Linked DNA regions of Homo sapiens: all the other regions are linked to region 1. Evidence: fine-mapped expression QTL. A gene starts in region 1. Each other region holds a variant in brackets. All regions are shown on one strand. Distances are from middle to middle.

Region 1 (5,157 bases):
AGTCAGAGTCTTGTTCTGTCGCCCAGGCTGGAGTGCAGTGGCTCGATCTCAGCTCACTGCAAGCTCCGCCTCCTGGGTTCATGCCATTCTCCTGCCTCAGCCTCCCACGTAGCTGGGACTACAGGCGCCTGCCGCCATGCCTGGCTAATTTTTTGTATTTTTAGTAGAGACGGGGTTTCACCATGTTAGCCAGGATGGTCTCGATCTCCTGACCTCGTGATCTGCCCGCTTCGGCCTCCAAAAGGGCTGGGATAACAGGCGTGGGCCACCGCGCCCGGCTGAGGCCTCTCTGTTTACCATATCTCAAGCACTCACTGTTTCATTTGTCTAGGCAACTCTCTACCCCTCTGCAGCCATCAGGCAGAGACAGGTTTTGCAGTGACTTGAAATGCTCAGGTCTTCTATTGAGGGCCAGCCCCCAATTCCTTCTATTACTGTAGCCCATTGATATGGAAAAATCCGCCAGTATTGGTCACTATAATAATTTATACATTGTCCCAAAGAAGTTATTATTGTTATAAAATGTTTATTTTTCATTTTTGCTATGTGTACTTATCCATTTAAGATGCATTCTCTAATTTGTTTTAAGAGAACAATTAAATACAATATTGTAACAACGAGACAACTTTTTTCTTCTGGAGAGCCCACAACCGTCCCACAGACATGATATTTTCTTCAAAGGACTGATATAATTATTCAATTAGATAACAAATGGCATATAGTATGTGTTCAGTAAAATTTAATCTCCTTCAATAATTAGTTAACATAAACTGTTAATTTATATCTGCTTTTACTTAGCATATGATTGAAAAAATAAAATCAGGAATGCAAGTCTAGGAACACAGAATAAACACTCAACCCATGACCTTTCTTTATTTTATTGTATTTATCCTTTTTTTTTTTTTTTTTTTTTTTGAGACAGAGTCTCGCTCTATTGGCCAGGCTGGAGTGCAGTGGTGTAATCTTGGTTCACTGCAACCTCTGCCTCCCGGGTTCAAGCGAATTCCTGCCTCAGCCTCCCAAGTAGTTGGGATTACAGTTGCCTGCGACCACACCCTGCTATTTTTTTTATTTTTAGTAGAGATGGGATCTCACCATGTTGGCCAGGCTGGTCTCGAACTCCTGACCTCAAGTGATTTGCCCACCTTGGCCTCCCAAAGTGTTTGCTGTGTTTTCCTAGGGCCTAAGGTTTTTGCTGCCACTGACAAGGGTCAGGAAGGAGGTATACTCTGATTTAGGGGCAATAAGTCCTAGGGTGAGAGCAGTAAAACTGGAGTCAGAAAAGCCAAATCCAGTCCTCAGCATTTATTACTAACTCTATGACCTCTTCGAATCATTTAAATTCTCTGTTCTTGTTTTCTCTTGTAAAACAGGAAAAGAAAAAAGATGCATTCTGCTTTGTTTGCAGGCATGAGCTAAACAAGCATGTTTAGTTCTTACGGGTATTTCTGTCATTTTCTCACTCTTTGACAAACCTATCTGATCTTTGACAAACCCACTCTCATTATTCCATAAGAAAGTGGTGTTAAAGGCTTATGTTTCTTCCAATTTGTGATTACCAAGAGGCACTTAAGAACTCCAGGATTTCCATTTGTATAAAATCTAGCACATTATCAGTAAAACATCTTGACATTTATTTTAAATAGATTATTTATCTGCTATGAACCATGTGACATGCTTCTTGTTATGTGATAGTAACTCCATTATTTAGACATTTTAAAATTCCATTCAAGAAACAGTTGTATCCATGGACCAGCCATTCAAAGAGTAATTTTTCTTTAATCATTGATCTTCCAAATTCAACTTTACTCCTCTCTCCTTTAAGTCACCTGAATTACATCGTCACATTGTTCAGTGTTTGTGTGAATGTGTATGCATGTGTGTATGTGGTGGTGGTGGAGGTCCCTTTCTTCAGTATTCCCTCATTTCCTACTTTGGGCCTTTTTGGAAATGTTATTAAAAATTTTGATTATAGAATGGTACTTCATATTCACAGCATGATGCATTCATCAACATAAATCTAGCCAAAGCATTTCATTTGTGGATTTATACACCTGAAGCATTAAAATAAGAAATGTTAATTTCTTGCAGACTACTACCAGATGATTTTAAATATCTGCTAAGCAGGAATGTCTGTTCCCATGTGGGGAATTTCCATAATAAAATCCTGGCACCCTCGCTGAAGAGTACAGTTTTATAGAAACAGAGAAAAACAACAGCAAGTATTTTCCCTGAGGACGGTTTTAGCTACAATTTCCCAATGCTGCTTAGTTATTTCTGTCTTATTTTATGCTTTTGTTTTGAAACATAATGCAATTTTACCTGGATGCACTCCCGGATAATCAGGAATGGCTCAGTGTGTTTTCTGGCTCTTGCAAATGCAAGACCTCCAGAAAATCAGAAGGCTCCACCGCCTTGTCCCTTCCCCCACTCACACCTCCAGCTGGGAGAAAAGGGTTAAGGATTATTGGAAAATAGAAGAGAAGGGAGGGAGCCCCAAGGAGGCCCACGAACGGGAGGCCGCGCCTCTGGGTGCAGCGGAGCTCGAGCGCTGTTGTGTGTTTGGAAGGAAGGATGCTGCTGCCAATTTGTGGGACCGCTGCTGCGAGGAGTGGGCGTGGCCTCGGCGGTGTGGATGCTTGTTAGGAAAGATGCTGAGTGCTTTTCAGTGAGGAGTCAGGGAGGTGTGTGTGAGAGAGAGAGAGAAAAGAGAGAGACAGAGACGGGGAGAGAGAGAGGGAGAGAGAAGAGAGGGAGGAGGGAAGAAGAAAAGACGGAGGGAGGTGAGGAGGAAGGGAGGGGGAGAGACAGAGACCTAGAGGGGCTGAAGACCCAGACAGAGCTGGCAGAGCTACTGAGAAGAGGACTGGAGCGCTCTGAGAGCCTCTCAAGATCTTTTGGGGGAGCCCAATAAATGTGAACATGGGATCTGTCACGGGAGCTGTCCTCAAGACGCTACTTCTGTTATCTACTCAAAATTGGAACAGAGTCGAAGCTGGGAATTCCTGTAAGTATACAGCAAATGATTTAAAACTTGCTGGGGGGCTCTCTGCAAAACTTTGATTCTGTTGGTTTGATGATGATTATTTGCAGCTGGGATTGCTGCAAAGCGTATTGCTGTAAACCAAGCATCACTTAAAAATCTTGCCAATGTGACCGGTTAACACTTGTCTCTCCTCTTGGTCTGGTCAAAATAGGCAAAGTGTCATTTCTCTTTTTGTCTACTCGCAGAATCTTACCCTCTGGTCTTTGAGTATTCATTGAGAATGCCCAAGTTCTAGTAAAACATGAAATTAGCATCTTATCGGGGGAATAGCCTGTGAATATCTTCATTTCTTCTTTTTTAAAGAACTACTGAATTTTATTGGAATTATGTCTAAGAGGAAAACAACTGGCAGACTTTACATTATGCTGCATTGGCTTAGATTTCTGAAGTTTGCAATTGGGCAGACCAGTAGCTGCCTGCATCTTTAAAATAATGCAGGCTAATAACTGAAATGTACTGCAGGCTTCAGGAGCACCAGCACTGGCTGAGGCGAGTCTCAGTATTAAGAGCTGTGCCCTCGCTGCTAAGAGAATGAGACTTAGCGCTCTCCGGAAAGAGGAGCCTCTTCCTACATTTCGCTTAAAGGAAAACCAGTCAGGTGGTCTTTCAAAAGTAGGATTCCTTTGTGGTTGAATGCTTAACTGCATAAATTTGTAATTGAATGTTCTGATGAAATAGAACCTATTTAGGGAAGATTGAAATCTTATTTATAATTTAGATATCATCCATAATAATTTGGCAGACTCCCTTCATCCACTCTTTATTAGAGATAGAAAAAGTTTTAAAAGTTATCTTTGGCTTAAATTCTCTAAATGGGAGAATTTTCCCCTCCTGATTAATGACAAACAAGCTTGGCAAATACAACTTTTTATTTTTTCTTGGATTTTAAAGGAAAAGCTCATTTGCTTTCCAAGAACTGGCTATGAGGCCTGTCCAGGAATTTATGTTGCTGCTGTATCATCAGGCTTAGATTTGGGGAACAGAGGCAGTAATCAGACATTTGCTATGGCATATCACTTGACTATGTTAAGAGTTCTGATATGTGAAAAACATGACAAACTCATGGGCACAAGTCAAATGTCCCCTCACAGTACCTGGCTCCCGTGATTTCGTGTTTCAGTTCAGAATGGGCTCATTTAATGTCACAGGGTATCCATCACTCTGAAAGAAGGAACCTCACTTCAGGTGCTGCACATCAGATTCAACTTTAGTTTGAGTGTTGTGATAATCTCATAAGTCAATAAAATGTATAATTTCACCTAGTCAAAACCTTGGAATCTTATAATGGTAGCATTAGAAAAACATTGCATCATACAAGCAAACAATAACAACAACACCCACACACAAATGGAAGTTCTGTAGAAAAGGCATAAGTAATTCATCTTCCAACCACTAAAGTTCAACCAAAAAGAAAAGCACTAGAGGTCACTCTTACAATGTAAAGCACATCACCCCAAGCATCCTTCCCTCAAGAAAAGCAGAGCTTAAATCTGGCCTGTACTCCATTCAGTCTTTCCACTAGACTGCCTGTAGTTGGGTTTAAAATACATTAATCTAATTATTTGGGCTGCTAGTTGTTTATGTTTGCTTGTTTTCTTGAAGCTCAATAAAAAGTGTAGGGTGTACATCAACATTAAATAGCTTTCTTTTGCCATATATCTTCTTAGAAAAGAAAAGGTGCTGAAAGAGATCTGAGGAGAGTGTAATATTTATGTCTGCTTGGCTCTGGTTGGATCCCTCACTGACACTTAAAATTTCAGTGCTGGTTCTATATTCTTTCAGCCTTGGTTTGTTAAGGAAGTAGTCTAATGCTCTTTTAAACATCTGATGAACTTGCAAAACCTATACGATTTTTCATTATAAAAAACATTTAAAGTTGGAGTTCTTGCTTACCATGCATGTGGAGTTGACTGTTCTTCAAGTGTCAAAAATAAAATGAAATGACCTTATATAATTAAAGTTGCACTCAGTAATTTATTGTGAATATTTTGACAATATGATTTGCAGCAGTATGTGTAAAAGAAAATATTTCATTTCTCAATTTCTATTTCATTTTTCAATATTTAAGAAGTATTTTCTTTTTGGAAGAAGTAAGGTCTACTTGTACCAAG
Region 2 (5,157 bases), 300 kb before region 1:
AGTATCTTTATTGAATTAAGTTGGTTTGAGACTTTAAAGCAAAGGGGATATTTGAGCAGGTAGAGATGTCCAAAATGGAAATGTTGTCAACTCGTAGTTGACTGGAGTTCAACCAATTTAGTGGTACAGAGATTAATTAGCCTTGATTTGATCTATTGTTATATTTGCAGACTCTTTTTTTAATAGGTACAGAAGATGTCTGGTGGTTTAGAAGGTTTTTATGAAGATTTATATATATATAATATAATATATATAAATCTATATATATAAATATTATATATAAATCTATATATAAATCTATATATAAATATTATATATAAATCTATATATAAATATTATATATAAATATATATATAAATCTATATATATAAATATTATATATAAATCTATATTTATATATAATATATATTTTATAGATATATAAATCTCTATATAAATATTATATATAAATCTGTATCTATAAATCTATAAATATAATATATAAAAATTATATGTATTATATATATTAATCTTCATAAAAATCTTCTAAAGCACCAAAGATGGTTTATATTATATATATAATATATAATATATAAATCTTCATAAAAATCTTCTAAACCACCAAGTATTTTATATATATATATAATGTAAAGATAGATAATTATACTTATTATTCAGATAGAAGTTTTGTTTTTAATTTAATTTGTACAGGTAGCTGTTTTATACCTGTATTATTTTTCCTTCTATTTTTGCCTGGTATGTTGTAGGATGTGGCAGGGAGGTGGAAAATTCCTGAGATCAAACACTATTTCTAGGTAGCTGCTTCCTTTGCTGTGAATTTACTGTTAATCCTCTTAGTCATAATCTCTGCAATTGAACATATAGCTCCATTTTCCAAGTTGAAAATGCCAAATATCATTTCAAAGTGATTAAAAACCTGGTGATAAAAAAGTACCAATAACATTCTCATTTTATGACTATTTCTTTGGATGATTTCCTTAAGATGAAGGAGCAATAATAATGTGTGAGGCTTTAATATTAAGTATTTAGAGACTTTAATAATTTGAGATTAATATTTATAAAACGTTTATGGCAAGATAGTGAACATTTAATGAAAATGTCTCAAGTTACATTAGTAATATTAGATTGACCCATATAATAGTAAAATATAAATGCATTTTCCCAATGATTCTTGACAAGTTTGTATATGGAAATATGAGTGATGGGATGAATGTGGGCTTTGGAATTGTTCAGACTTATTAGTAATGGGAGCTTCAGAAAGTTAATTGTGCTCTGAAACCTCTTTTCTTATTTAGTAAATGACAATGGTAATTCCTGTCTTGCCTGCTTTTCTTAAAGAATTAATGATATATTGTGCAATAACCTAGCATAATGATTTGAAGGTAGTGATAGTAATAGTGATAATAGTAACAATAAGAGGATCACGATAAGGAATAAACTAAATAAAAGATGAAACAGCTAATAAGGACCTTGTTTTTTTCTTAATGTGTATTCTATTTCCAAAATCTCCAAGTATTTTATTTGTCATCTCTTAGTAAAACCGAGATGTTTAAGTGAGTGTTACTTTATATTCTGGGAATTAAGATGGGGCTGGAGATGAAGTTCAATTCACACAAAAGGCCTAATGAGTATTTCTCGGAACCTTTGTAAAAATTGCACAGTTAATAAGGTGGCTTAATTTCATTGCTAGCGGCACCAATGCATATTTCATTCATTTTAAGTGTTTCCTTTTTCGGAGCCAGAATGAAAATATAATAATTGCACAGGCCATGATTAACCAGCTGCTTAGCAATTCTCTCTCTTACTATTTTCTATCATATCTTTTTGCACGCAAAGGACAGCAAATAGATAATATGAGTTGAGGATACACATTGCATTATCATTTTGACGTAATTGCTCTCCCTTTAATGGAGAATGAGAGCTACCAGCAGTGTTTGCTACCTGTGTATTTTTAAAATCTGAAGATATTCAAAGGTCCTATCCACAGTACAGAAAGTTAGCCCTTTTCATGGAGATGTAGCTGGTTTCATCGAGCTGATTTTATAACTGTTTCTCTCTTGGCTTTAAGTCTGAAGCCTTTATTGAAGTAGGACCAATGGACATTTAGTGGAAA[T/A]CTCTGCCTCCATGCACAGTTCCTTCCTCTCACAGTGAGAGCCTGTAAAGAGTGTCGCTCACAGAGCCTCACATCCACACTCTCCCCACTGTACCCACCATCAGCCAGCAACTGTCAGGCAGGGGATATTCTGGGAAGAGGGATTTAAAAAGAAAGCACAGGGCTGGCAGTCTTCACAGATTCTTGTGAAGAAGTATCTCTGACATTCAGGGTGCACAGTCACTCCTGCTCATGGCCAGCTGGGTAGAAAATTGCCCTGGACACCATGCATGTGACTGAGAGTGAGGCAAACTTTTAAATGAATAACTAGGGAGAGGAGGATTGCGTTAGTTTAATTTCCTACTTTTCAATTTCCTCAGATTGGTCCTTCCTGATGAATCCTGTCTAGTAGTTACCAGTGGCCCCCCTAATTGAGACCAGTAAGAGCCCAGCCAAATAAGCATTTAAGGTTCCTTTCCTGTACCTGAGAATCACATAGCTTAGATTGTCACCTCTCAGGTGGCAGAACCCTAAATGTTCAATGCTGTATCATCTGCTGGCAGTTTCTAGTATTCTCCTCAAGTTTCCTACTGCCCCTAACACCCCATCTTGTTCTTTGTCTGTGTCTCTCTTTCTTATACATACACACACACACACACACACACACATCAAAGAGGCATATGCCTATAAAATGACCATCCCTGCATTTTAATCCCATGATACTTGAATCTTTAGCCATGTCTCCAGTCCATGGGTTGATGTCGTTGGCATTTCCCAAGACCAGATCCTCTTCTCATTTCCCTCTACCGTGAACCACTCTCTGGTTAGTGATCAAGTTTGCTTTTGATGACTGCAACATCTTTGGTCTTTACACTTAAGATGATATAATAATTAACTAGCTAAGCTTTCATCTGGCACACTCTGATCAATTCATCTTGCTGTTTATGCTTCTGGGCTGGATTTGAGTTTTGTTGCAAACCCAACATTTATTGGGGCCATTAAAAATAATTCTTGTCTTTTCCCTTTCTTCGTCTCACATTTATAAAGTGAATGTACATCCTATACAATTGAGGTTTCTAAAGTCTGCCTGTAAGGTGGAACTGGAATATAGTAAAATATTCCTCTTGAATATTCCCACAAATCACTCATAAGATACATACTATGGACATGAATAACCTCAGTAAGACCAACAAAGCCAAACAGCTTTTTCTACAGCGTTGATCCAATCACTGTGTCTTCACTTGACTATCAGATGAACTTTTGCCTTGCGTTTTGGCTTTATCTTATATGAAAATGTACACATTTAACCCCAGAATCATACTTGTGCGCTGAGATATTCACAATACTGGAGACAGAAGGGTTGACTGATAAAAACAGCACATTCTGTTCCTAGGGTTGTACTTCCACTGTGGCATGTGTTCATTGATAGGAGTGGAAAGTCGATAGTCAGTACTCGCTCTCTGTTCTTTTCCTCAAGCACCTACACTTGGATTTGCATAAGTCAAATGTACAAATGACAACATGCTAGTGTTCCTTTGCGCAGCTCAAAACTTACCCTCAGTAATTCACATGGCTGACCACGGCATTGGGAACCAATGGTGATAACAGTGACCACTAACTGTGCAAAGTATGATGCTTAGTGTTTTATATTGTAATCCTATTTAATCTGCAAATCTGCTCTGTGAGTTCTGCCTTATTAGTCCCATTTCCCGGATATCTATGTGTGGATAAAGTTTTAAAGAACCTTTCAATCTTTAGGGAAAAAAGTAAGCAAGAGACATCACTCACCTACTTTGATCCCACTGTGCATGTGTGTTTCTGTATTTGTGTGTGTGCATATCGAATGCAAACTGGCTTACAGGATGTAACATTTTAAAGAGCTAAAAGTTGAGAGAGCAGTAACTTTTTATTATACTTACAATGAAATGATTGAAGATTGGAAGGTTGGTAATTTTTTTCCAAGTCATACAGCTAGTTGAACTGAATAGTTTGAGTCACATTGCTTCCTACTCTTTTTAGAAGAGTAACTTTTGTTTCTAACTTGTTTTTTATTGTCTATTTTCTAGTTTTCTAGCTTTCTTATGAGCTAGAACTTCGGTAATGTCATTGCAAACTGCAAGGTATTGTTACGCTACATGATTTTTTCAAGCAGCTGATTGGCTTCTGGGTTTTTTTCTTTTGAGACGGCCTTGTATTTGCTGTCTCGAGATTTCCATTACAGAGAATTACCAATTTTTCTAGTATAATACAATTTACTATTGCAAAAAAGGGGCCTATTTCTCTGTTGGGGCTCTTGATACAACTTTAAGGTGTTTCCATCAATTGAGGGCTTAGTCTTAAGTCGCCTGGATGGGTGTGGTAACACTTTGTGTTATCTATTGGTCAGTCAGAGGCTTAATAGGAAATTTATCTCATTTCCACTTACTATGATATATTGCTTCTTCTGCTTTTAATTTTTATAATGCTTTTTATAATTTTTTATAATTTTATAATGCTTTTAATTTTAATTTTAATAATGCTCAGTGTAATTTCTGTTTTGGTGCTTTCTTTGATATCTTATGCTATATGGTTTTTGTTGCCTTTGTTTTGTTCGCTCATTCATAAACATTTTTAAGGCTTGAGGAATATATTTTTAGATATTTTAGCGTTGACTGTTGTAAGTCAAATTATGATCAAACATACTCACATAATTATAACTCTATATCTTTATTTACTGATGTTTAACTTGAAAAAGAAGTTATGTATGGCTGGGCGCGGTGGCTCACGCCTGTAATCCCAGCACTTTGGGAGGCCGAGGTGGGCGGATCACGAGGTCAGGAGATGGAGACCATCCTGGCTAACACGGTGAAACCCAATCTGTACTAAAAATACAAAAAAATTAGCCAAGCGTGGTGGCGGGCCCCTGTAGTCCCAGCTGCTGAGGAGGCTGAGGCAGGAGAATGGCGTGAACCCAGGAGGCGGAGCTTGCAGTGAGCCGAGATCGCGCCACTGCACTCCAGCCTGGGTAACAGAGCCAGATTCCGTCTCAAAAAAAAAAAAAAAAAAAAAAAAAAAAAAGAACTTAT
Region 3 (5,157 bases), 290 kb before region 1:
TATGTGCTACTTCCTTTCACCTGGGCCCATTAGTAGGGTTTACACAAGCTGCTCTAAAGATCACAAGAAGCAGACAGACATGTGCTGCCCATACTCCAGAGACACCAAAACTGCACCCACTTTGGACTCTTCATGAGCAGCTCCCCAAGATCGAGGAGAGACAAACCTTATCTTTTACTTCAGGTCCCTTGGAGAAGAAAGCCCTGACTTGATTTCCTTCCCTGACATCCCAGCAGGACTTATGGCTTCTGTATACCTTCAATGGTCCACCAACAGCATTCTTGTCTCTGTCAATCACCTACTCCAGAGACGGTGTTGGGAATGAGAGTAGGGCAGTGATAAGTGATCAGTGTGCCATAATTCCAAAAGCCCACAAAAGTGACTTCGATATTAAGACATAGCTTAGAAAGATAAATCTTTTGTGTTTGTGTTAAAAATTTTAAAATCTCTAATACACATTAGAATCAAATGCAAACAAATTTTGAGTGTTTGCTTCTTACAAGTGTGGTATAATATGAATTGGGAGAAGAAAAAGAACATACTTCTGCAAGAAATTTTAGAATTTGAAGGCTGATCCACTTGGATTTCAATTGCTTAATAAGCTAAATCATGTTTTGCTCTCCTGCTATGTGTCTAATCATAATCATATGAGTATTTTCCTCTACTTCTGTGTGCTGATTGTTTGTATGCAGCATCTCTCCATCTGAGGCAGTGGCAGGAGCCCTGGGCTCCCCCTGTTTTTCATCACCCTTTTGCAGAAATGCTTCTCACTTTTCCTGAGCAATGCTGCTGTGGTCTAAACTGTCATTTCCCCAGCACCATCTGTAGACTGATATTTTGTAAGGATTTGTATGGATTCCAAGTAAGAATCCAGCTCAATAGGCCAGCATAATTAGTTTTTAAGATTAAAAAAAAAAGTAATTGATCAATTCCTATTCTAGTCCACCCTCTATTTCCCTCCACTTCTTATTTCACCCTCACATGAAGATATACTTACAGCTTTGAAACAGAATCAAATTTCTGGGCTGCACAATTAAATTTCAGTCAAAATTTTCACTTACTAGAATGCTCACAATACTAATAGTGTTGTTAGAAATAAGACACTTGATTAAAAGGCGGTGCACTTGTCTATATCTTTAATGTGCATTCCTAATGAGTCTTAGCAGGAGGCTGATTCACATGAAAATGCACAATTAGCTCATCCAAGTTTAATACACCATTATCTGCATCCAGGCCCTCTCTTCATTACCATTTGAATGCACTGTTTTCTTTGGAGTTTTGTGTAGGAAGCAAATCCCTATATATGGCACACAGCTCTAGACTGATTTGTCTGCATTTGCCCTTTAGACAAAAGGCCAAAACAACATGCTCTTTGGTGCATTAATTTTCAATCTCTTGCTATTTTTGAAATTGTAATGCAGCACATTTCCTTTTCCAAGGGACTTCAGTCAGTATACAGCGTGGAAGTGGATATCGCCAAGGGATTTGTTTGTTATGGGGCTGCTTTAAAGAGCTGTTGAAATCCAGTGAAATAAAATAGGACTTAAGTCTAATGTCACTACTATATAGAGTCCCGTACCATCTTGACTTTGGAATCTAAGACAATTCATTGCCTGAAATAAAAACTGAGAAAACAAGAGTTTTATTTATTTCCTATCAGTGTTGTCATTTGGCTTTTCATTAATCTTCAGTGCTTTTAGCATATCACACGCCTACAGTTCTATAAGTTACCTCGATATGCAGAATACCATTTAATACGGAGCAAATTGAATCACTAACAGATTAAAAATACTATTTAAAAAAATCCCTTCTTCTATCCTCATTTTCAAGGATCATTTATATTTAGCCCTTCAGAGACTTAAACAATTGTACAAAGAGAAAAAGCCTTTCTTAGGACATGAGTTTCTACTTCTGAATAATGAATCATATAGTATATTTCACTAAGCATGAAGTCATTTTAGAGAAACCCATTTGGTGATAGTTTACAGATTTATACAGTAAAAAAAACAGAGGTGACATACCTGAGGTGCAGAAATTGTCAAAATTCTTATTTGCCCATAAGGTAATATTGAGAGTAATTTGCTAAGCCTAAGAAGAAAAAGGTTCATTGGAGGGCACATGACATATTAGAACCTGCGTGAGGTATTTATACCCTCTACAACTTTCTAACTTTGTTTATCAAGCACTTTTCTTAATCTCTGAGTCTCAGAATTCCTCTTTCTTTTTCCAGGCAGTATCTGGAAAAATGGCATAATAACAACCTTTGTGCACCATTGTTGTGAGGAGGAAAGAAAAAATTAGAAAGTATCTAATATCATCCATGTCCCAACAAAGGACATGAACTCATCCTTTTTTATGGCTGCATAGTATTCCATGGTGTATATGTGCCACATTTTCTTAATCCAGTCTATGAAGGGGCACATCACGCACTGGGGCCTGTTGTGGGGTGGGGGGAGGGGGGAAGGATAGCATTAGGAGATATACCTCATGTAAATGATGAGCTAATGGGTGCAGCACACCAACATGGCACATGTATACATATGTAACAAACCTGCGCATTGTGCACATGTACCCTAGAACTTAAAGTATAATAAAAAAAAAGTAGTAATATACAAATTCGTCAAGGTTACAGGATACAAGATCAATAAAAACTGTGTTTTTATGTGCTAGCAATGGATTATCTGAATGAGAAATTAGGAAAACAATTCCATTTCCAATAGTATCAAAAATAAATACTTACGAATACATTTTAAACATGAATTGCAAGACTTGTACACTAAAAACTGTAAGATATTGGTGAAAGAAATTAAAGGCAACCCAAATAAATGAAAAGTTATTCCATGTTCATGATTCATAAGTTTTAATGTTATTGAGATGGTAATACACTTCAAATTGATCTGCAGATTCATCACAATGTTTATCAGAATCCCAGCTGATTTTTTTTTTTGTAGAAACTATCTCATCCCCACATTTATATGGAAATGTAAGGCAGTA[C/T]AGATAACCAAAACAATCTTGAAAAGGAAAAATAAAGTTAGAGGACTCATACTTCCCTATTTCAAAATTTACTACAATGCTACAGAAATCAAGTCACTTTGGTGCTGGCAGGCATAAACATATAAATTAATGTAATAGAATCAAAAGCCCAGAAATAAACGCATACATTTATGGTCAATTGATTTTTCACTAAGAAGCCAAGCAAATTCAATGGGAAAAAGAATAGTTGTTTCACAAATGATGCTGGAACAACTGGGTATCCACATGATGCAAAAGAATAAATTTGGACCCCTACCACCACATGCAAAAACTAAATAAATATGGGACCCAGACCTAACTATGAGAGCTCATGCTCTCATACAGAGTTAACAAAACCCACAAAACGAAACAGGAAGAAATCTTCATGATCTTGGGTTAGGCAATAATTTCTAAGCTATGACACCAAAAATACAAGCAATAAAAGAGAAGATTAGGCCGGGCGTGGTGGCTCATGTCTGTAATCCCAGCACTTTGGGAGGCAGAGGCAGGCGGATCATGGGGTCAGGAGTTCGAGACCAGCCTGACCAACATGGTGAAACCCCGTCTCTACTAAAAATACAAAAATTAGCTGGGTGTAGTGGCATGCGACTATAATCTCAGCTACTCAGGAGGCTGAGGCAGGAGAATCACTTGAACCCAGGAGGCGGAGGTTGCAGTGAACCGAGATTGTGCCATTGCACTCCAGTCTGGGTGATGGAGTGAGACTCCATCTCAAAAAAATTAATTAGTTGAACTTCATTAAAATTAAAAATTTAGTGCTTCAAAGGACACTATCAAGAAAGATGACCCAAAGAATGGGAGAAAATATTTGTAAATCATGTATCTAGGAAGAGAATCATATCTGGAATATATAAATAGTTTTTAAAATTATTTTTATTTTGAGACAGAGTGTTGCTCTGTCACCCAGGCTGGAGTGCAGTGGCATGATCTTAGCTCACCACAACCTCCGTCTCCTGGATTCAAGCAATTTTCCTGCCTCAGCCTCTCAAGTAGCTGGGATTACAGGTGCCCGCCACCATGTCCAGCTAATTTTTGTATTTTTAGTAGAGACGGGTTTTCACTATCTTGGCCAGGCTGCTTTGGAACTCTTGATGTCAGGTGATCTGCCTGCCTCAGCCTCCCAAAGTGCTGGGATTACAGGCATGCGCCACCGTACCTGGCCTAAATAGCTTTTAATATAAAATATAAAAAGACAACCCAATTACAAAATGGACAATGGATTTAAACAGATATTTCTGCAAAGAAGATATATACAAATTAACAAAATATATGAAAAAATGCTCAACATTATTAATCATTAGAGAAATGCAGATCGAAACCACAATGACAATCTGCAGAATGGCTATGCCAAAAAGGCAGGCAATAAGAAGTGTTGGAGAGAATGTGGAGAAATTGGAACCCTCATACATTGCCGATGGGAATGTGGAATGGTGCAGCCCATTTGGCAGTTCCTCAAAATAGTATTTTACAGAGCAATTCCACTTCTAGGTATCTACTTGAAAGAAATGAAAATATATGTCCACACATAAACTTGCACCCTATAACCAAAAAATGGAAAAAATCCATCCATCAAATGTTGGATAAACTAAACGTGGTATATCCAGATGATAAAATATTAAGCAGCATCACAAAGAATGAAGGACTGATGCATGCTACAACCTGGATAAAGCTTGAAAACATTTTACTAAATGAAAGAAGCCTGTCACAAAAGAATACATATTGTATCATCCCATCATCTTAGTTTAGTTTCTGTTGCTAATAACAGAACACCTGAAACTGACATTAAAGCAAACTAAATATGGCCTGAGAAGGATTCTGTACCTCTACATTGAAGTCCTTGTGGACAAACTGTAACCTAAGTTAGAGTGTTTTATAAGAGAGCAAAAATGAGTCTGTGGCCCAGTCAGCGAGGAAATAAGTTGTACAAGATGGTATTGACAAGGACGGCAGGGCCAGAAGATATAAGGTCTTATAGGATTATACTCCTAGTGCTGTGGGAAGTCATGAAGAGGCAGAAGTCAGACAAGAGGAGCTTATGTATGTATTTATTTATTCTGTGTGGCTAGAATCCATTATTCTGTGTGGCTAGAACCAACTTTATTACCAAGAAGGTTTAATAGAATA
Region 4 (5,157 bases), 280 kb after region 1:
TAGCATTCATTCTATGGAACAAGAAATTAGATATTGCTGTTAATTTTCAACTGTTCTGGTATGATCTAAAACAAGTTTAACCTGCTTAATGGCTACAGTTTTTACATGTGAAAACTGTAGCCTTGGTCTCTTAACCATGTAATACATAAGTTTTGTTAGAGGTAAAAATTAAATTTGGACTATAATGTCCTTGCTTTATTTGAGAACATTTGCTGTGTTTGCTTTTGTCTCCTCGTGGTGTTATTCATAGACCTGGAAATGCTTCTCAGATCCTGTGTGGCCGGTGTTTGCATCTTCAGTGGCCACAAGCATAATAAAGCCCCTTTGCCTTTCTCTGTATTATATTCAATACAATACATCAATAGTCTTGAAAAATGTTTTGCTGTCTTTGCTTTGTTTGTATTGCTCATTATTCTATTTGTCTCTTCTTAATAATGTTGAATACATTTGGTTTTGAGTCTCAGACTTCAACTCTGAACATACAAGTTGTATTTAACAAGACTCAGAAAGTGCAGTGGTTGTTAGTATGTAATGTCTTTCCTTTTAAAAAAAGTTTTCCAATTAATTTGCTACCATTGTTTGATGGTGACAGTACTTAAGACCCTGAGTAATGCCAGTTTCCCAAAGAATGTAAAATGTTTTCAACTAAACTGTTGATATATTAAAAAAAATTCTTAACACAGCAAAAAATTATTATTTAATTTACAACTGTAATACCTCAAATGAAATATACTTATGAGACTATTTTGCCCAAACCTAGATCAGTCCTTTATTGGTTTACATTTCTGTTTTTCTGAAGTTTATCACAAACTTCGCCTTGATCTTCAATGATTATACTTCACGAATCATCTTATATATTACCAAAAAAGAGACAAATTGAAGTATAGAGCCCCATTTCCCATTCTGAAACATATACCCCTTTAGGTGTACATTTTGCTGTGCATAGACTTCCAGTACATACTTTTTGAAATATGAGCTGCAACCATCAGTGATCTACACAATCAATAATTAAACAATGCACACTCTAAGGGGAGATAGCATATTAAATGATCTACTGTGAATTTGTCATTCCAGACACTTCTCGTCTGAAACGATGGGGTGAATTTCTCAAAAATTACCAAGAATCAATCCAACTTGCTGAATGGTACATTCTGATTAGGGTGTATTATACACTAGGAGATCAAAGAATGATCAATAACCTTATGGAACTGTTACAATAATTAATCTTGAGACCATGCATACAAGGAACTATCTTTGAATTCTGCAAGCCAATCATACAATAAAGGCACTCTATTATACATACTCACACCTTCAAGTGCCTCCCAAGTAACTATTGGATTTCTTAGTTTGTCTACACCAGAAGAATCGGGAAATATGTAAATTTAGCATTACTATCATCTTATTTTCTATATTTTCCTTGTTAACTCTTCTTATAAAACCTGCCTCTCTTTTCTCATAGCACTATATCCATATTGATGTTTCTGCAAATGCCTGACTAAATCTTAAGAACCTGAATTAACATAGTAGTTTACGAAGGACTAAGGACCTATGTTGGTAGATGGTATACTCTTTGTTTGATTGGAAGATCTATGGTGACAAGGGAAGGATTTAACATAGAAATGGCATTATTTATTCGATGCAAAGCTGAGTGCAAACATCATTATATCTCTGAATCTTTTGCAGATGTTCATGTTATTTAGTAGCGGTATTAACCTCATTGGTAGCTGAACTCTAGGGAGGTTTATTGGTGAAGCCTCACAGTCCTCTGTGGTCTGCACTGCTAGAGACTCAACATTATGGCATGGAAATGCATTGACACATCCTATGCCATGACTTTAATTTCCTGATTTGTAATCTCTTATTTTATCATTAATAAAATGCATTTTTGAACTAAAATGCAAAACAGAAGTCAATCATTTCAAAATTATCTTTCAGTAGATGTTTTTGTCCTTCAGAACAACAGAGTCACTCATAGAATTGGACAGCACTGACATGATTTAGTGTGAACAGTTTTACAGATGAAAAGTCCAGGATGCGGATATATCAATTGACATTCCCAAGGGGACATGTAACATTGTGTAAGTGTTGAAGATGTGACTACAATGTCCTTTTTTACTCCACATGATATTGATCTTCCAAGACCTGGAATTTTGACAGTTATTTAGTGGTGTAGAAAAATCTGAAAGATCTTGATACTTTCTTTGTCCACAATGATCTATAGTTCTATAGCTTATCCATTATCTGTTCTAAATGAACATCAACCTTTATTTGATAGGTCATTGCTGTTGATAGGTTTGCCTTTCTTTTAAAAATATTTGGTAGGTTTATGACCCTTGACTGCAGGAGAGACAATTATTATCACTGGAGCACTTTTATGTAGGCTTTGTGAAATCCACAATAGGAATTAGATGTCACTGAGGGAATCATCAAATATTTTCCTCCTGATAGAAGGATAAATTAGACACATTCTAAATCAATGCATGTTCAAGCGAATTGTTTGATTTTCAAACTCATGTATCAACTAAATGACAAATCGACTAGATACCTTCAATATATTCTGGTTGTCTTTCGCTTTTCCAAAGTCTGGATGGGAGAGAGTGGTAACGTGGAGGAAAAAGTTCAGAAGCTGAATGTCTTTGTGTTGGGGATGTGGGTGGGTGAGCACATTTGTGTGTGCAACAAATAATAAGAAATTAAGATAAGGGAACAACATAGTGTACTTACAATGTGATTAAGAAAGCTGGAGCTTGGCTTTGAAGATTTGCAAATAAAAATAAAAGGGGATGGAAAATAAATCTGACTACAAGTATAATAACTTTTCCAGTACAATCTTTAAAAAATCTGTTTTTCTATTTTAACATTGTCTTTATTTATTAAAAATACATGCACATACTTAAAAAATCAAATAGCTCAAGAAAGCTTACAAAAAATATCTTTCCATTGCCAGATCCCCTTCCCAACACTTAAAACTCTTT[C/T]AACTGTGTCTTTCACTGTCTCTGTGTTTATAAATAACCAGCAGCTACAGGTTAGGTTCCCTGGGAAGCAAACTTTGAGACAGAGATTATGCTGGAAGAAATCTGTTAGGGGCTACTGTAGAGATCAACGCCTGTTGAAGACAGAATGATGTGGGGTGGGGCAGATGGAGAAGTAAAGCTGTGGTATGGTCACAAGAAGGGATCAGCCGACCCTGCTGACATGGTCCTTTAGTGACATACAGAGTTAGGGTGGATGAAATGGGAATTTATACTTCTGCATTGACCAGGCATTGGATGTTAACTTCTTGATGAGGTGGGCATGAACTTGGACAAATGGCTCTTTTCAGCTTAGGTGGTTCCTGAAGAGGGAGGACAAACATCACCAGCAGCCGAGAAGAATAAATTGCTGAGTCCTGAAATAGGAGTCTCAGTGGCACAGTACAGCATCTCTGAGGTTCCCCCTTGTGCTAACCAGATCCACCTGCTTCATATGAGTTCTGGGAGTAGCTCCTTCAGAATTCTAGTGAGCTTCATATCTTGGACAGGAGGGAGTAGTATGGAATAAACCACAGACCCTACCACTGCAGGTAGTCTCTCAGTTGTAGCTTGTACTCATCTTTTTCCTCCTCTACCATCCACACCAGCTGACAACACTACAAGGAGTTTGAACCCTTGTCTCCTATGACCTTCTCAGGGTATATCTGCTGTACTTTTGCAATTACCATTAAAATTGATCAAAGAAGTATCAACATGCAAAGCACATTTCTCCCTTCCTCAGAGTGTAATTTCACCTCCCTCACTTATTGTTGGTTACAGACAGTTACTTCTCACATACCCTCTCAGAAAATCTTGAATCGGTGAAAGATCCACATTACAGCAAAGGATAAGTGGGAGTGGGCACATTGCCATGAGATATGCTGGTCCTGTCACATTCCACACCACCAGAGGGGCTCTGTAGACCCTCAACAGGTGGTGGTGGCTGATGGCTTGCAGGCAGTAAAGACAACCCAAACCTGAAGGAAGTCATAATTCTTACTACAATGAATCTCTGTCCCTTTCAGAGTAGAGGGATCTGATGTACTCAGCTTGCCACAGAATTTATCTGCTGGTAGAGAGAAATTATTCTGGGGGATGAACACTGGTCTCTGTTGATCATTAGGACATTCAGGAGTGGTAGTAGCTAGATCAGTCCTGATGAGCGGGAATGCTCACTGCTTGTCTATGAGTAGCTCCTACCCCTGCCTGCATGGCTACTCTGTTCATATGCTCATTGCCCCAGCACTTTGGTGGCCAGTGATTGAAGTTGGTTTAATGCCAACCATGCATAGGTCATTCTATCTACTAATTGTTGTTTAGTGATTCTTCCATGATTCTTTCCATGGTGGGCAAATAATTTTATGCTTTATGACCACTCCCATAGGTCCATTTACATGCTTCTACTTCAGACCTCCTTGTTTCCAATCTTCCAGTCTCTTTCTAGGTCTCTGACAAACTGACCAACCTACTGCCCATAAGTCCATATAGCATATAATATAATTTCATATGTATATATAAATTATAACCTCAGTCTATTCGTTTCATGCAGAGTGAATGAGCATGGGTGCCATGCAAATGTTCTGCCATTGGGAGGGCTTTTCCTCATTGCCATCTTGTGATGCCACCCTAATTGGCACTGTAGTGGTGGCATTTTCCATGTTCACCTTGCACCCATATTCCAAGTCAACCCATCCATGCCAAGATAAGATATTTCCCTTCTCCAGCAGTTGATGGTAAGAGACCCTTCATGCAGCCCTAGGTGTAAGCTGAGGGAAAGGTACTGTTGGGACAGTGGTGGATCACAGGGGTCTGGGCTACTGGCTTATGCAGCTTGCTGGCACCTGCTCATGCTTGGCTCCAGATGCATCATTTCCAGTTGATGATGGCTTCCTGCTGGGCCCAGGTAACTTTATGACTTGGTGGACCTGACAGAACCCAGCTCATTATGGGCATTTCTGCCCATATTTGCTGTGCCAATGTGATGTAAGGCATTTCGTCTCTAGCAGGGCCCAATAGCAAGCCTGGAACCTTTTTAGAAAGTTGTGTTTCTCTACGCCAGGTGACCTGGCACTGCTATAGTTCCCTGAGTTTTTCAATGTGATGTTCCCACTGGTGACTTCCAGTGAAGTCTACATAGCATTATTTT

The links. PIP is the estimated chance that this variant, and not a neighbour inherited with it, causes the effect.
Region 2: its variant is the best candidate, but not a certain one, in a credible set for the expression of CNTNAP4 in hippocampus (GTEx, PIP 0.50).
Region 3: its variant is the best candidate, but not a certain one, in a credible set for the expression of CNTNAP4 in spinal cord (GTEx, PIP 0.90).
Region 4: its variant is the best candidate, but not a certain one, in a credible set for the expression of CNTNAP4 in cerebral cortex (GTEx, PIP 0.77).

The regions. Positions count from the first base shown.
Region 1 is chr16:76,274,741-76,279,897 of GRCh38, forward strand. CNTNAP4 (contactin associated protein family member 4) reads left to right here and starts at 2,661. Exons shown (of 24, transcript NM_033401.5): 1 at 2,661-3,007. The coding sequence starts at 2,923.
Region 2 is chr16:75,970,169-75,975,325 of GRCh38, forward strand. No RefSeq gene overlaps it. Among named protein-coding and RNA genes, the nearest start is that of CPHXL, 250 kb to the left of the region's middle. The variant T/A (reference allele first, on the strand shown) is at 2,114.
Region 3 is chr16:75,982,698-75,987,854 of GRCh38, forward strand. No RefSeq gene overlaps it. Among named protein-coding and RNA genes, the nearest start is that of CPHXL, 260 kb to the left of the region's middle. The variant C/T (reference allele first, on the strand shown) is at 2,995.
Region 4 is chr16:76,558,862-76,564,018 of GRCh38, forward strand. It overlaps CNTNAP4 (contactin associated protein family member 4), which reads left to right. Exons shown (of 24, transcript NM_033401.5): 24 at 1-1,896. Among named protein-coding and RNA genes, the nearest start is that of LINC02125, 74 kb to the right of the region's middle. The variant C/T (reference allele first, on the strand shown) is at 2,976.